Homo sapiens: one gene and its partner. The protein of the gene in region 1 interacts with the protein of each later gene in a biochemical or structural test. Each region holds a gene or a part of one and is shown on either strand. Other genes may lie near its edges.

The links.
Region 2: of the proteins of PTPRG (region 1) and PDPK1, one has a biochemical effect on the other in vitro, tested with the Homo sapiens proteins (one large-scale study listed by IntAct).

Annotation. Positions count from the first base shown.
Region 1 is NC_000003.12:61,564,571-61,568,070, reverse strand, and holds part of PTPRG (receptor-type tyrosine-protein phosphatase gamma isoform 1 precursor), read right to left. Parts: intron 1-3,500.
Region 2 is NC_000016.10:2,541,021-2,544,520, forward strand, and holds part of PDPK1 (3-phosphoinositide-dependent protein kinase 1), read left to right. Parts: intron 1-3,500. UniProt on the Homo sapiens protein: Serine/threonine kinase which acts as a master kinase, phosphorylating and activating a subgroup of the AGC family of protein kinases.

The DNA of each region.
Region 1 (3,500 bases):
AGTGCACAGAATGTTGCCCTAGTCCTGGATATAGTTTGTTTCCAAGTAAGATGGTTGCTCCCATTTCTCAGACTGGCAAATGAACTTTTTTTTTTTTTTTTTTTTGAGGCAGGGTCTCACTATGTCGCCCAGGCTGGAGAGCAGTGGCACCATCACAGCTCATTGCAGCCCCAAAGTCCTGTCCTCCACCTCTGGAGTAGCTGGAACTACAGGCGCATACCACCAAGTACAGCTAATTTTTGTATTTTTTGTAGAGATGAGGTCTCACCATGTTGCACATGGCTGGTCTTGAACTCCTGGGCTCAAGCAATCTGCCCACCTGGGTCTCCCAAAGTGCTGAGATGACAGGCATGAGCCACCATGCCCAGCCTACATTTGATCTTTTAATTTTTTTTTTTTTTTTTTGAGACAGGGTCTCACTGTGTCACTCAAGCTGGAGTGCAGTGGCATGATCACAGTACACTGCGGCCTCAACCTCGTGGGCTCAAGCAATCCTCCCATCTTGGCCTCCCAAGTAGTGGGGACAAAAGAGTGCACCCAGCTAATTTTTCTTTTATTATCTGTAGAGGCAGGGTCTCCCTATGTTGCCCTGGCTGGTCTCGAACTTCTGGGCTCAAGTGACCCTCCCGCCTCCCAAAGCACTGTGATTATAGGAGTGAGCCACAGTGCCCAGTTTTATCTTTTAATCATTTGCACAGGCAACCTCATTCTGGGACAAATTCAGTGACTATTGCCAAATCCCACAAGAAGCCCTCACAGAGCAGGCTCTTCTCAGCCCCTCCTGAGTCCCTCCTGAGCCACTCCCTCTACCTCGTCAGTGGCTGCTTAACCTAGATCAAGCTCAGGTGGAAAATTAAAGGTGGGGAGCAGTGTACTCCTTGGCTTCTATAATATTAATAAAACAGCCCTTTTATTCTCTAAACAGGATACAGCCGAAAACAGTTTCAGTGACCACCACCCAACATCTAACAGAGGTCAACTCTGAACCAAAGCAAACCAAGGGCTAATTTCTGGGCACCAAGTGCTTTAGAGGGAACTTCAGATGCCCTAAATTTTTCCCATAAGCTCCGGGTTATGGAATGTGACCACATGAAATGTAACCCAGGATGACAGTATTAACTACAATTGTTTAAATCTCTTAATTCAGAATGTACGCATATTGCAATCTTCAACCTGCCTAGAAATGGCATTTCATTGTCCCACATGCTGAATGGAAATCAAGATTTAAAAAGAACAAACAACGTGTCACTGTAAAAGCAAAGTGTTAAAGCAACAGCCCAGTAGCAATGTAATCCCAGCACTCTGGGAGGCCGAGGTGGGCAGAGCACCTGAGGTCAGGAGTTCAAGACCACCCTGGCCAACATGGCGGCACTCCGTCTCCACAAAATTACAAAAATTAGCTAGGCATAGTGGCACGTGCCTGTAGACTCAGCTACTCAGGAGGCTGAGGCAGGAGAATCGCTTGAACCTGGGAAGTAGAGGTTGCAATGAGCTAGGATCTCACTACTGCACTCCAGCCTGGGTGACAGAGTGAGACTCCATCTCAAAAAAAGAAAAGAAGTCTCCAGGAAAAGGCAGGGAGACAAGGGAGTAGGAGAGGCTCCTGAGTAACTACTCTAGGGCATTTTAAGTGATCTCACGTGAATGCCAAGGAAGTTACTTTCAATCAGCACACAGGTGTATAACTGATTCTACTCTGTTAACTTGGGAGCTGTTTAGAATAGAAAGGCAAATCTGAAAGGGCTGTTTGTTTTGCTGCATTAAATCATCAGCATTCGCTGGATCGCTTCATGTAAACAACAACATAATCTTTTATTCAGTGAAAACAGGTCCATAATTAATGGGAGATACTCAAAGCTTCACTATGGAATAGTCACTTTTCCCACATCAGCCAACCCTTCCTATGACCTTTCTTCTTTCAGCAACAACAGCAACTTCCCCTATTTCCAAAAGGCCCTGTTTATGCCTATCTTTATTAGTGTTTTAAGTCCATCAACCCTCAAATGTGAACACTGTTTAGAAGGAAACATCAAAGATTTTATTCCATAACTGTGTCAAAGGAACCCAGTTTAGAGACTGGGTAAAGATTCTTCATTTTCAAACATGATACATGAGGGAGAGGGAAAAAAAACCTGTACAATCTCACACCCTGTAAAGAGAAAGATTGCTGATTTCCAAATATTACTTTTGCCTTTTCCTAAGGCCATAACGGATGCCCATCAGAACTAAAGCCCGCACATGCAAATAAAATAAGAGACAGCTTAGAGGGAGATTCATGATTCACCCGACATTAATCATGGAGCCTCCAATTCTGACACATCCAAGGTACACAGCTGAGCTTATCCATCTGAACTGTTTCCAATGGCAGCATCCTAGATATAATGTAATTACAATACAAAACATATCAAAACCAGAGTTTCACTCTGAGGGCCGAAAGACAAAAATCAATTAAAAAAAAAATCTGCTGAGCTTGAGAATGTAAACTAGATAAAAGGTTAACACTCTGAAGTAACATATTTTATACTGTGTCAGAGGCAATTAAATTCCCAGTGATTGGAGATATGTATCAGAGTTTGAATGAACTATGTGTAGGATTTGCTTTAAAATAATAAGGTGTTGGGGAGGAAGAGATGAGAGAAGATTGAGTTGTGAGTGTTGAAGTTGGGTGGGGGATCCATTATATTTTGCTATTTTTGTAAACGTTTCTACAGTGCTTTATAAAGATGTATATAGCAATGTAATATGCCTAATATCATGTTTGGTAACACTCTTAGCTTTGCACTTGGAAAGCATCACTTGAAGCATTATTAACCCTGAATGGATCCCAAACCTGCCACACTGCTGTTCAAAGACTAAAATCCACTGTTTCCAATCCACTGGGAAAAAGCTCATGCCAGGGCTGTGTTTCCAAAACCCTGCCCAAACTACAGCTAACCCATATCCTGAACAGGAGCTGAGAACTCAAATGCAACTGAAGAGTTATGCTGAGTTATGATTCTGAGAGGAAACACAAAAATACTAAATAAAAAGGGATTTTGGCTAAGACCTCACAAGGACGACCCTACTCCAAAACAGAAGCATTTTTATCCCTCATGTCAAACAGATAAGCGCTTTCGAGGTCATAGCAGGCAAGAAGTAGGGGTCCCAAGGCTAACTCCAGCCCCCAGCGGGTTTCGAGAAAGCCAGGAGCAGCATCGCCAGGCCGAGGCCGCCGCCTCGCGCCAAGGCGCGTCTGCAGCCCCAGAGCCTGGGAACCCGGGCACGCGCGCCCCATCCCTGAGGCGTGGAGGTGGCCGAGGCCGACCAGTGTGGAGGTGGCAGGAGCCCCACCAGTGGCTCGGGGGCGCCCCCTGAGGTCCAGCGGCGTCGCGGCAACCTCGGAAAACGAAAAGCCAGCGTCTCCCAGAGCTCTGATATTTTAACTTTACCTTGCTCCAAAGCCTGCTGCTCCCTCTCGGGCTGCACTTTTCCAAACCAAACCGCCCTCTTCCCTGCGCCTC
Region 2 (3,500 bases), on another chromosome or scaffold:
TGTGATGTATTCCTGTACGCAACGTTGCCCTGACAGCCAGTCCAAGCTGAGTCTAGAGCTGGCAAGGTGAGCTCCCAGTGGTAAGAGGGAAGTGGTTTGTTCTGCTTTTCTGAGATGTGTTCTTATGAGAAGGATCCAGCAGCAGCCTGCAGAGATGTGGGGCCTGAAAAGAGGCCTTGGGCAGCTCTTCTTGACAGGTCTTGGCCCTCTAGACTGCCTTCAGCACAGTTTTGGGGAGAAACAGGGAGTGTTCCTTTTTCAGTCTATGCACTCATCCCCTGAGCCGCCTGACCCAGGGTTTAGATGCTCCAGGGCAGCTGATTGACACCGGTGGGAGACGGAGTCTGGCAAGCAGGTGATGAACTGGGAAGCGCTGCAGAAATGAGGGGGCAAGCGTGGCCAGTCCCTTCTGAGAGGATGTGTTTGGAAGAGAGTGGGCACTGGCGTGGCACTTTCCCCTTCTGAGGAAATGGACAGGATGCCACGTGGTGCTGCAGTTCTGTGTGGGGCAGGTTGTGGCTGCAGAGAAGCCCTGGGTGCAGAAACAGTCCCCCAAGCAGGTGCGAGGGCCAGGGTGCTCTATGCTGCTCCACACCTGCTGTGCGATGACATGTGGCCACTGGGCTGCCCAGCACAGTTGTTTAGAAAGCAGGTTCAAAGGGCAGTGTGCTGGGAGGAAGTGCTGCTGTGGAAACTGCAAGTTTTGGACATGAGTTGCTCAGGTCTTTTCAGCCGTGCATTCTTCTACAGCAGAATTGCATTATTCACTTGCTCAGTGTGATACCATGTCCTTTAAAAAATTATTTGAATATTGAGAACAGGTTGTATGTTCCGTCTCTAGCTGCTAGATCACAGGCAGGGCACATCTTCTCAAAGAGTAACAAGGCATGGGTTGTGTGTGTTCTCTTCTCTTAGTGAGGAGAAAGGCCTGTTTGGGTTCATGATGATTGTTGGGGTCTCTTTTCTGTACCTGATGTTGGTTGCACAAAGTCCGTTTCCATTCTCTTAGTCTAGACAATTTTCCTGATATTTAAACTGGAATTTTTGCTCCAAGAAATTCCAGGTCATTTAGAATGTGTTAAGATTGAGTTTCTGGGCTACACATCCCTTATAAGAGCACCTGATTCTGGTTTCTGTTTGTTTATTTATTTATTTTTTCGAGACAGTCTCGTTCTGTCACGCAGGCTGGAGTACAGTGGCATGATTTTGGCTCACTGCAACCTCCGCCTCATGGGTTCAAGTGATTCTCGTGCCTCAGGCTCCCAAGTAGCTGGGATTACAGGTGCGCACCACCTACATTATTTATTTATTTAATTTATTTATTGAGATGAGGTCTCACTATGTTGCCCAGGCTACTCAAACTTCTGGTCTCAAGGGATCCTCCCGCCTCGGCCTCCCAAAGTGCTGGGATTACAGGCATGAGCCGCCGCACCCAGCCTGGTTTCTGTTTAAAGAGTTGGATTATACAGGGACCCACAGAATTGGGAACTGACAGTACTGTAGAGCCTGTGTATGAAAAAGATGGACAAGCCTGACATTAGCAGCTCACTGTTGAGCACACGGCCCCCTGCAGAATAAACAAGTGTGTGGTTTCCATCTGATGAAGGTGGGCATGTAGTTCCTGGACAGTCCAGTGACTTCCGTCATTCCACAGACAAGATCAGATGCCCTCTCTACCAGCCACCGTGCTGGGACCGGCCCAATCTGTGTTTCAAGTCAGCTTGTAGCACGCAGGGATTCGAAATATTTAAAGATGAGGTTTGAAGGTAGGTCTGGAGACCAAGGACGTTAGTTCTGGAGGTCCCCGTCTCCTGCGTGTTTGCGGAGCTGGTGACAGTGCCCTCTCCCCGTGCTGGAGAGGGCTGAGGAGAGGCTGTGTGTCTCAGCAGGATGCCAGTCAGGATTCTTCTGGCTATGGGCTTATTTTTTGCAATAAATTCATCGTTAAAGTCCCATTCTTTAACCTGTTTTTTCCCTTTTGGAATTAATTCGACTGCAGTAGGAAGGGGTTGTAGCTGAAAGTGACCGCTGTGCATTGAATGCCATCAGAAAAGGCTGATGAGATTTGCAGGGAAGACTTGAAGCCTCACTGAAATGCGCCTGGCGTGTGTTGACCTTTGCAGTGGAACATGTGGGAAAGGGGCCCGCACTCACTTTTCAGTTCTGCCTCGGTGATTCCAGGAGCCCCGGGGTTGGGAGCGGGGACAGGACCTTGCTCCTGAGTCTTAGGTGTGGTGTCTCTCGCCCCTTGCTGCATTGGCGGGACCCTCGGTGCCGCGGCCTCAGTTGCAGGGCGGCCAGGGCTGCTCCGTGAAGGAGGCGCTCACTCCATGGAGCTGCAGGACGCTGCATTCTCCTCACTCTGGCCATTGCCGCTGTCCTTCCTGCTTCCCCTTTTCTGGTGAGGGAGGGCTCCAAGGACTTGCTGGCTGGTCCCCAGATGCCAGCACTCCTGCATCTTCCCCTCCTCTCCTGGCCTGTCACTTTGTTCCTCCTCTGTGAGGGGCCCAGGCTCGGATGCCCGGCCACGGCCTCTCTTTCCAGCCTGTGCGGCCCAGGTGGGTCCAGGATGTTCCCTGCTGCCCTGTTCTCAGCAGTTCTTGTCTTCTTCAGGCTTTTCCTCCTTGCCTAGAGAAATTTCCCTACATGGAAACCCCTGTGGCTGTACAGTCTTTTCTGACCAGTCTGCTGGGTTTTTTGTTATTTGTTTTTTGTTTTTGAGACAGAATCTTGCTCTGTCGCCCAGGCTGGAGTGCAGTGGCACGATCTCGGCTCACCGCAACCTCCGTCTTTCAGGTTGAAGCAATTCTCCTACTTCAGCCTCCTGAGTAGCTGGGATTACAGGCACGTGCCACCGCACCCGGCTAATTTTTTTTTTTTTTTTTTGTAATTTTAGTAGAGACCGGGTTTTGCCATGTTGGCCAGGCTGGTCTCGAGCTCCTGACCTCAGGTGATCCGCCCACCTCGGCCCCCCAAAGTGGTGGGATTACAGGCGTGAGCCACCGTGCCCGGCCTGCTTTACTATATTCTTTAGGGAATCATGACAATAAAAAAAAGTCTGTGCATGTTCAGTACAGATGCAATTTCTTGTTTTTCTAATATTTTCTATCCACTGTTGGTTGAATCCATGCATGTGGAGTCAACCTATGGTTGGGGATGGCAGACTGTATGTACTCTCCTGATAGGTGGTTACAAAGTGTTTCTACCTGAAGAGACCTGGTTGCAAAGCAGCATGCCCAGTATAACTTTCCTCAGGCCCAGGGAAAAGCTTGGAGGGAGGTTCCCACAGAAATATTAGCAGTGGTTTCCTGGGCCAGTGGGATGAGGACCACACATTGAGCTAGCAGTGGAGAAACAGTGGTGAATAAGGTAGGTCTGGCTCTGTCTCCTGGAACTTACTGGACTGAGGATGAACCTTTCTCCACTAATTTTTGTTCTGAAAAATTTCAAAACCGAAGAATAGTTGAAAGCATAGTACAATGAATATCCCTAGCCTTTTC